2 separate regions of the Homo sapiens genome follow, and region 1 is linked to region 2. Evidence: fine-mapped expression QTL. A gene starts in region 2. The other region holds a variant in brackets. All regions are shown on one strand. Distances are from middle to middle.

Region 1 (5,367 bases), 67 kb after region 2:
GTTGTTTTATGAACATCAGATCCTGGCCGTTAACCTAACGAAAGTTTCTCTTTCATCCGTTTCCAGTGTCTGTGCACTAATCATCTCGACCTTCTACATGAGATACAGAATTAATACTCTGGAGGAGCAGCTGGGGTTACTAACCTCCATTGTGGACACCCATAATACTGAGTAAGACGATTGCCTCTAGCTGTCATCTGCTTGCCATTCTGCTTAATATAATAATTGACCTGAACTTAGCATCCTTCTTAGTAAACATTAATTGGAGATACATTCTGTATGTGACATTTTGTTAAGTGTATATGTGGAAAGTAAAAAGGTAGGAGGGTCTAGAAATGAATGACCTAACCCTGTACTATTTTGGAGTTGTGGTAATGTTGCTAGTAATAAGGCAAGAAACAAGCCTAATTTTACATTATCTTGCTCGAATATGCTAAGATGCAGTTGTGACCTTGCCCCATTTATTAAACTACACAAGTTTACCTTAGTAAAATGGCAATAAATCAAGACACTCAGAGAAAGAAGCAATTCAAGAAACTCAGCACATTTTATCATGTATAACTTTTTATATTAACTCACTTATTTGCAAAACTCTTGACCACTGTCAAGATCAATGTGACTAGTAATTAATTGAATGTGTCTGTGAAGATTTTCCATCAGTCTTTTTTTTAACATGCCTGGCCTAATTAAACCTTTTCAGACATAGAGCTCTTTTCTTTAAACCTATTTACAAGAAGCTTTTGACACATTGCCTAAAAAGTGAAATAATTTATGCCATGTTAGAAAGTGTACATTTAGCCCAAGTTTTTGAAGTAGAGATATTTCCTGACAGAGTATTCACCACATGCTGAAGGCTCTATTAGAATGGATACATACACATACAAATACAGATGATTTTTCCTCATTATATTTTCACCATAACCTTAGAATAGAACTGTTCCCATTTTACAGATGAAGAAACTGAGACTCAGAGTAATAATTAGTTTAATGTCTTACAGTTTGCAGATTCAGCTGCAGGTCTATATAACTACAAAGACCATGGGCTCCTCAGTCTACCAGTGGCTCTCAAATTTTAATTTGCATCAGAATTATCTAGAATTGTTTAAACAGATTTCAGGGCTCATCTCCAGAGTGCCTGATATAGTAGGTCTGGGATGAGGCCTGAGAATTTGCATTTCCAGCAAGTTCCCAGGTGGTGCTGATGGCAATGGTCTGAGCTCTATACTTTGAGAAATACTGTGTTATACCATTCTAGGACCTTTCTTTACTCCATAGGAATTACCTTTAGGTGGCTTACATGTATGCAGGCATACAGGTTATTTTTGACCCATAAATATACACTTGAACTAATAAAATACAAAAGCCTAATAAACAGTTTGGTATGGATTCATACTCTGCCCTTAGTTTCTCCCATCTTGTTCAAAAAGTTAATATTGGCATAGAGATAAGAAGTGACTCCAGGCCAGGCACAGTGGCTCACGCCTGATTATGAGACAAGGGCAATTATAGTTGTATGATAAATCTCAAAGAAGAAACTACAAAAGTCTCGTGTTTCAAGGGACATTTGATTAACTAGATAAGGACATTCCTAAACTTGTAAAGTTCTAGTATAAATAGCTCAAAAGTACAATAATTCTTGTAAGTTTATGCTCTGGTGGAGACAGAAAGGATATTAGGGGTTAATAAAAGGGTTCTAAGAAACCACGTGCTTGAAAATAATTGCCTGATTTTTGTTTAGAAGCCGAAACACACCATATCCACTTAAACAAAAATAGCTTAAGAGATTTCCCGCTGAGCTTTTAAGAATTAGTTCCCTAAACATCTAGCCTGGAGTTGCGGATTACTGCAGGGCTTTGTCTAATATTAACAAATGAAATGTTCATTCTCTTCTATTATAAACCAATTTTCTGTTCAAATAAATTTTAAATGTGTTCATTCCACTTCTTTCCTTGTCATCCCTGCCCATAATAATTTTTCTCTTTTTTCTTACAGACAGGCAGCACCATCTGGCCTGAGGTCACAAGTACAATTCAATGTGGAGGTTCTCTGTCAAGAGCTTACAGCTAACATAGTGAAATTAGAAAAGGTGACCTATTTCTTTCCTGTGTATGGGGGCAGTCACAGTAGTGCCTGTTGGTTGCCCTAGGTCAGGTCAGGGATTACACACTCAGACGCCGTTAGTGTGCCGCAATAAACCTACATGATCAACCCTGGCTAGGGGCTTTTTATAGTAAATGTGGAAGAATATTTTTTATTTCCACAAAGAAATAGGTCTTAATCTCATTTTCCTTGAAATACATAGTCTTGTAGGTCTTTTGTTCTTCCTCCTTGATTAGACATATTACTTAATAGCACAGGGCCCAGTGGTAAGTGACTACTGACATCGGAGCTTAATGTAGGGACATAGTAGGGAGTGAACTGGAGACCAACCACTGGCTTGGCCAGAAAGTACAGCCCCAACTCCACCAAGGCTGACTGTTCCCATAGGTAAAATATTGCATGTAAGTCCTATTAGAACCATGGAAGATAGACGTCATTGTTCCCTATCTGATAGGGGAAGAATCAAGAGTTTCAAATTAGCTTGCTGAAGGTGACACACCTAGAAAGGCAGCAGACGTGAGTCTGCTGAGAGAGCATTAGAAGAAAAATACATAAATAAAGTCAGCAGATCTGGAACCTGAACCAGGCCTGTCTGACTGCAAAGTTGTGCTTAGAAGCTCTCTGCTTTACTGTTCCTCAGAATTCAGCTTTAGGCTTTGTTGATAAGGCCACAGATGTACCTTTACCTCAAAGTATCTACAGTCCAAACAACGCTAGGGCAAAACTGTCCTTAGCCTGTGGCATTCTTAGAAGGCAGCAGGAGGGTGAGCTGGAGAAGAAGATAGGCATGCCAGAAATATCCCAGAAATAAACCTGATTTACATGTCTTATTTTCTTCTCCTTTATCTGATAACTACTTTGTTTTTACCCTAATCCTTCAGGAAAGGCTTAGAGAGAATTCAGTGTTCAATTACAACTGCTGTCACAAACGCCCAGTATCTGGTAGCTTTACATCATAGTACAGTTATGCTTACTTGGGAAGACATATTTCTTCATATTAAATACAAATTAGTAAAATTTCATATTAAATACAAATGAATAAAATTATCTTTGTTTTCCTACACTCAGTGTTAGTTAGTATTTAACAGCTAAAGTATTAAGAGCAAAGGAGTTTCCAAACTTATGTTCTAAACCAAGTCAGGTCAGAGAATTCATATTAAATCATTCTATTTATGGGCAAATGTAGAAAGTTCTTTACATCGAGAATCAACCTAGAGAAGGTATG[A/G]GTTAGCTTTCTTCCTTTCTAAAACATTAGTTTCTGAGAATTGAAGATAAACGATTTTTTTTAATGAAATGCTTACAAATGTTTGGCTTTCATGCAACCCAGAGAATGAAGTGGTATTAATTTTCAATTTTGTTCACTCTTACATACCAGTGATATTCTTTGGATTAGAAACACATGGGATCCTGCCGCCTTCTTTTGTGTTTCTTCCCACTCTCCCGCTGGGCCTGGCCGGGACACCACATTCTGTAACCAGGGAACTGAAAACAGAAGAGCTTGTTCACAGCAGGCAAACAGCCTCAGGTCTTGTGCAGGGTTCAGACAGCTTAGCAGGGAGGCCGGGGAGGTTTACAGGAGCACCAGTGGAGACTACCTTTGTCTCAAAGCAGAAACTGATTCAGTAAAAAGTGGATTTGGGGTCAAAATGCGCGTGTTGATGTTCTAAAAAGTTAGAAGTTGCACACATTGCTCAAAAGAATCTAAGTATTAAAAAAGAGGTACCAGGCCACACCCGTGCTCTTTTTGATTCATCTGCACCTTTCCTCAGAGGCAGCTGGGCACTAGCGCAGCACAGCCTGCCGGTGAAATAGCAGCTCCATGCTGTTGAAGGTCTTATACTCCATACCAGCAATTCCTTCTTCTCACCTTCGGGGGCCGGTGATGTCTAAGCCTCATGATCTTTCTCTGCTTATAACTTCCCTATTTCTGTTCATGGCATCACTGCTCTTTCAGTCATCCTCATTGGAAATCTAAGAATAATTTTTAACTCCCTCTTTCCACCTGCCACTGGTTGACTAGTTGGCAAATCCAGTGAAGTCTGTCTTCAAATGTCTCCTCAAAGTTTCTTCCCACAGGTACCATCCTAGTCCATTCAGCCTTCCCACTACCAGTCAGATAGTGTGAAGCTGGATCTCATTGTGGTTTTTGCTTGTATTTTCCTAATTATTACTGAGGCTGAACATCTCATATATTTACTGGCCATTTGGGTTTTCCTCTGTAAATTGCTTAATTCTCTCCTTTGTTTTAATTTTGGGTTTTGTGTGTGTGTCATCGTAGGTGTGTTTTGTGGATTTGGGATGTCAGTTCTTTGTTTTATTCCTTTTTCTACCTCCCACTCCTGTTTTTCCATTTATCTTTGGTCCTGAGGGATACATGAGGAAGAAACAAAGCAAGAAAGTTGGGGAAGAAAGCAATGTCTCTTACGGGAACTGAAGTAAACACTTATTTTCTTAGTTCTGGAAGTGGAATTAATGGTGGAACAGTATAGTAGAAAGAGCATAAATGTTGGAGTCAGGCCTTTGTTCTTATCCCTGCTCCACTGCTTACTACCCACATAACTCATCCTGCTACTTCAGCTCCCTGGCCCTTGGTTTCATGTGTAAAGCCTGTCTTTGTGTGGTGTTGTATGGCTCAGGAGCAGGCATGCCTTTGCTGGCACTTACATATCAGATCCCCTTCCTCCTCACTCACCTGAGAACACCCATAGGACATCACAGACTGTTCCTCTAAAAAACAATATGTTCTTTCTTTTCGTCTGCAAGGTTTCTACTCCCATCACAGGGCTGGTTGTTGAGAATTCCTTGCTCTGAATTCTTTTTTTTTTCCTTCTTTGTTTTTTTTCCCAAGACAGAGTCTTGCTCTGTCACCCAGGCTGGAGTGCAGTGCCGCAATCTTGGCTCACTGCAACCCCCACCTTCCAGGTTCAAGCAATTCTCCTGCCTCAGCCTCCCAAGTAGCTGGGATTACAGGCATCTGCCACCACACCCAGCTAATTTGTATATTTTTTAGTAGAGACAGAGTTTCACCATGTTGGCCAGGCTGGTCTGGAACTCCTGACCTCGTGATCTGCCCACTTCATCCTCCCAAAGTGCTGGGATTACAGGCACAAGCCACAGCACCCGGCTTCTATGAATTCTTACAAGTTCCTTTATTCAACGGTCATTTACTGAGAACATTTTTGATGTCCAACATCGGACCCGTCTTAAGATCCAAACATCTGACGTGGTTGGTCTCTGTCCCTGTGAAATCCACAACCTTCTTGGAAA
Region 2 (5,384 bases):
AAAGGGCATCCTAAAACATATTTTAGGCATAATCTTTTTATCTTGTCTCCTCTCACATATCATAGGCATAATCTTACATCTCTATTTTGTCACATGGCAATGACATTTCCTTTATTGTTTATCTGCCGTGCCTCTTGAATACTATATTCCATATATTACTGTAGAATAGCCCCAAGAATAAACAAATTAGGCAGTTGTTTAACAATGCCTTTTAAACGTAAGCAAACATCAGTAGGTAAAATATTGTAGCTTACTTGCTCCTTTCTAATTCTTCCACTCTAGGAAAAGACTGATATTTTCCCTACCAGCCCTGCCTTCCACTTCAACCTCACCTGCTCCTTCTCACTTAAAACCACACCATTGGAAGTCCTTATACCATGCACTAAAGAACTTTAAGCTATTTTAGGGTAACTGAGTGCTCTTTATTTGAGCCATAAGCCCATGCTAAGACTGCTTTGAATACTTGCCCTTACTCATGCATTAAAAGAGGGCTGACCATGATTTCTCAAAAGGGTAAACATAGACTACCATATGACCCAGCAAGTCTACTCCTAGGTATATATCCAAAAGAAATGAAATCAGGGACTCAGACAAACATTTGCACACCCATGTTCATAGCAGCATCATTCACAATAGACAAAAGCTAGAAACAACCCAAGGGTCCATCAACAGATAAACGGGCAACCCAAATGTGGTATATACATGCAATGGAATATCATCCAGCCAAAAAAAAATGAAATTTGGATATATGCTATGACATGGATTGACCTTGAAAACATTACACTGAGTGAAACAAGCCAGACACAAAAGGAAAAATATTGTATGATTCCACTAATGTGAGGTACCTAAAACAGACAAATTTATAGAGACAGAAAGTAAACTAGAGGCTACCAGAGGCTGGGAGGAGGTGAGAAAGAAAGAGTTATTGTTTAATGTATTTAATGGGAGTTTATGCCAAGGATGATAAAAAAAAGTTTTGGGTACAGATAAGTGGTGATAGTTAAATAACATTGTGAAAGTGTTGAATGCCACTGAATTATACACTTATTAAAATGATAAATAGTAATGTTATGTATATTTTACCACAATAAATAAATTACTTAGCGGGGAAAAGTCAGTCTGATCTGAGCTCTGTAATGAGAAGTTGGAGTGCACCTGAGATCTGAGAGTCCTCATCCAGAGTTTGGGAAATTGACAACCTCATCTCTGTTCCAAACCTATCCCTATTCTGAGGAGGGTGGGGATCTAGAGGTGAAGGCATCAGGAATGTCCCCAGGAAGAGGCAACTATGGGCACCAAGGAGACAGCCTTCAAGCTTTCAGGTCACCCAGAGTTTTCCCCATCCCACCTAGCACAGCTCCTATAGCAAAGCAGTCAGTGGTCAGGAAAGAAAAAGAGAGAGAGGCCTGACTAAGCCAACTCTTCTGGAATTTATGTAAGCTTTTTCTTTTACTTATTTTTCAAATGTCACAAACATCAATTTTGGAGCAAGCAGGCTACAAAAAGATGCTTTTGTTCTCTCAGCCTAATGATATATATGTAAAAAGAGAAGGAATAAGAAAACTTTGGAAAGAACTTGCACCTCCAAAATGTTTGAAGTTATTTAGAAGGTTAGGTGTTTTACACACACATACACCCTACAAACTACATACATACATGTACATACTATGGTTGTATAGTCTTTGTAATACTCTTAAATCTAAACTTTATTTTAAGAGAAAAATGAAGGACTTGCAGCCCCAGAACATAGTTAGTCGTTTTTTCCCAGGCATGTCATGCTCTACTGTTGCCACTTGTAATTGTTTTGAAGTCAAGTCAGGCTTCCAATAATAACGTTTATATTAATTATTCTAATTGTCAACTACTCCATTGCAAATTAGAAAACCACCAATACAAATGTCATTTGCTATAACAAGTCAATGTTTATACAAGCTTGCCCAACCTGCAGCCCAGAACAGCTGTGAATATAGCCCAATACAAATTCATAAACTGTCTTATAACATGGTGACATTTATGCACGGATTTTTTTTTTTTTTTTGAGACAGGGTCTCACTCTGTTGCCCAGACTGGAGTGCAGTGGTGCATCTTGGCCCACCACAACCTCCATCTCCCAGGCTCAAGTGATTCTCCTGCCTCAGCCTCCCAAATAGCTGGGATTACAAGCGCCTGCGCCACCTCACCCAGCTAATTTTTGTATTTTTAGTAGAGATGGGGTTTCACTAGGTTGGCCATGCTAGTCTCGAACTCCTGACCTCAAATGATCCACCCGCCTCGGCCTCCCAAACTGCTGGGATTACAGGCGTAAGCCACCGTGCCTGGCCCCTGCACAGACCTTTTTTAAAGCTCATCATCTATCCTTAGTGTTAGTATATTTTATGTGTGGCCCAAGACAGTTCGTCTTCTTCCAATGTGACCCAGGGAAGCCAAAAGATTGGACACCCCTGATTGAGAACAATGCCTGGAACTTTGTAGCTCTCAAAAGTTTGTTCAATGAATGAATGAGTGAATGCTTCCAATACAAAACCTTAGAACAGGCAAGTCAAAATGTCACCAAAAGGTGGGAAGAAGAGGCATTCACGGTACTGGTTGAGTGCATAGTAAATAAGGTACTTGCACAACTATGGGCAACAAAGAGACGGCTTGGGAATTATCAAACACCAATTTTGATTTTGATGAGAACAGTCATAACCCAATATTTGAAGATTTTGATGGTTGCTTCTTCTTTGCCCCTCTAACCACCCCCCCCACCCCAGAACGATGAAGGGTTAACCAAAACACCACCAAAGGCAACTACTTATTACCTTTGTTATTCCCACATAAAAAATTGAGCAGACCTATTGTTTAAGCAGAAGAGGCAGTCCCTCAATGAAGCAATATCCTGTTTGAATAATTTAGGATGGGGCATAGGCCAGCCCACACAGCGCATTTGTGTGACAGGGCGTCCCACTCAGACGTCTCCATTTCCGGTATCTAGAGCCGGCTGCCCTCTAAAAATCCCCCTGTTACAGTCGGGATAGAAAACAAAAAGCTTAATTTACCAGGAGGCTAAACAGATTGTGCCTTCTTAGGCAAATGTTCCACCTGCTTGGCCAATTAGCTTCCTCTCCCGAAAGACTCGTTCAACAGGTTTCCTTTTTCTCTTCTCTGCCTCCTGGGTTGGGGAAAGAGGCTGTCACTTCGCTTCGACCCTCCCCTTCCCTCCCTCTCGGCTTTTCCACAGTGGGTCGGACCAATCGCGCCCGCTCCGACGTGTCCAGGTCCGCGGCCCCGGGAGCTTGGCGCGGCCCGGCCTGGATGCGCTGGGCGGAGGGTGCAGGGGAGGGCACGGCGCCGCTTGCTTGGCCTGCGCACCCGGACCTAGAAGCCGGGACGAGCCGGGGCAGAGCCAGGCGCGCGGAAGTCTGAAGGTGCCCTCCAGACACGGCCCCGATGACTGAACTACAGCAAGATGTGGAAGACACAAAGCCTGCGAAAGTGCTCGGGAAGAGGGAGAGCAAACTTGGCTCAGCCCAGTGAGTATTCTCAGCTGGGACCCATCCAAGGAGGTGGGAGGAGCGCAGCCTAAACTTCTCTGCCCCGGGACGCATTTTGGGTGGATGCGGATTTCTGGAGCTCCTATATGGACAATCTTGTGGCGCGCTCTCTCTGTCTCTCACTCTCTCTCTCTGTCTAGATATTCAGTTAAGGAGATGGTTTAGATTGATTGAAAAGTCTACTGTAGGATTTAAACAAATTCTCTTAATTCAAAACTCACTGGATGTTGGGAAAATAATTTTGTAGAAAATAAGCCTAACCACATTGAAGCTCAAAGTCCCAACACAGCCCTTCGTTTAGAATGACCATTTTCACAAATTCATTTTAGTTCAGCAAATAATTGAGTATCTACTTGTTCAATAACGATGGGCAATACAAGGATAAATGTTATTTTGGATCTGCCCTTCTGGAACTTCAAGAGCAGAGTGGGGATGGGGGAGGCACAAATGAATATTACTGTACTTCAAGGGACTTTGGTGACCATTGCCACATTAAACACACAGACAAGGTATGATAAAGAGTTTAGCCTATAATTGAGTCTTCTCTACTTTTAAAATATTTATCTATTTTGCAGTCTTTGGTAAAATTGGTTTGGGAGGAGAGGTTGTTTTTTTCCTACAAAGTGGTATTTTCTAAGCCTACTGAAGTCACTTCTAATTCAGTCTATGATTTTAGACACTAACCCTTCTGAGCTCTAAAACTCTTGTTCTGGTATCAGGATATGAGTAATTTAGGAAGGAGGGATATGTATTATCATAAGGTTATACTGATGTGATAATTCCACTTTGAAATCATTTTAAGTTGCCAAATTTTTGTGCTTAGAAACCCGGTCTAACTTCTGTTTTGAACTTCATAACTTACATTAATTATCACTAGGCTCAAAGTCTTGTTGAAGTCTGGGTGTCCCCATGGACATTTCTTCTAAGAGGATTAGAATGACTTGCTCCTCACAATTTCCCTGCGTCTGTAACTGCACCCATGTAGACCTCATCACCTAGAGCCTTAGCCTCCTAAATAATAGTAGCTGGCACTTACTGAGAATGCTTACTATGTGACAGGGAGTGTGCTCAATACTTTAAATGCATTCTCACAAAGAATGAGGCAGGTGCTATTATTTCCATGTTGCAGATAAAAGCACTGAAGCTCTGAGAAGCTAAGCAGCTAGGCAGAGTCACAAAGTTAATAAAAGAGCAGCCAGGATTCAAGCCCAGGTCTCCTAACTTTACAGCATGAACTTAGAACCACTATGCTGTACACTGGTTCCTCTGTTCCAGAATCTATGATGGCCTTCCATGGCCTACTCTTAAAAATAGGCTTCTCTGCCAAGATTTTAAGATCCTTCATGATCTGGACCCACACAGACCATTGCAACCTCACTTCCTAATACTAGTCAGCATGCACATCTTTTATAGCCAAACAATCATACTAGCAGCCCTATACTTAAAGGAGTGATATGCAGCACTCCCATGTTCATTGCACATTACTCACAATAGCCAAGATATGAAATCAACCTAAGTGTCCATCAACAGATGAATGGATAAGAAAATGTGCTATATACACAAGATACGAAATCAATCTAAGTGTCTATCAATGGATAAAGGGATAAGAAAATGTGGTATATATACACAATATTATTCAGCCTTTAAAAAGAAAGATCATTTGTGACATGGATGAACCTAGAGGACGTATGTTAGACAAAATAAGCCAGGAATAGAAAAACAAACACTGCATGTTCTCACTTAAGTGTGACATCTGAAAAAGTTGACTCAGGCCAGGCAGGGACTGTGGCTCATGCCCATAATCCCAACACTTTGGGAGGCCGAGGCTGGAGGATCACTTGAGCCCAGGAA

Direction of the effects. Alleles are on the strand shown, and positions count from the first base shown. SD is a standard deviation of normalised expression in the study named.
For the expression in tibial nerve of the gene that starts at base 3,232 in region 2, allele G in region 1 goes with a lower level than allele A (moderate effect, 0.43 SD a copy in GTEx).

Evidence for each region. PIP is the estimated chance that this variant, and not a neighbour inherited with it, causes the effect.
Region 1: its variant is the best candidate, but not a certain one, in a credible set for the expression of GRAMD2B in tibial nerve (GTEx, PIP 0.82).

What each region holds. Positions count from the first base shown.
Region 1 is chr5:126,486,807-126,492,173 of GRCh38, forward strand. It overlaps GRAMD2B (GRAM domain containing 2B), which reads left to right. Exons shown (of 14, transcript NM_023927.4): 12 at 67-171; 13 at 1,993-2,086. Among named protein-coding and RNA genes, the nearest start is that of GRAMD2B, 66 kb to the left of the region's middle. The variant A/G (reference allele first, on the strand shown) is at 3,326.
Region 2 is chr5:126,420,178-126,425,561 of GRCh38, forward strand. It overlaps GRAMD2B (GRAM domain containing 2B), which reads left to right and starts at 3,232. Exons shown (of 14, transcript NM_023927.4): 1 at 3,232-3,512. The coding sequence starts at 3,430. RefSeq lists a silencer at 3,207-3,336.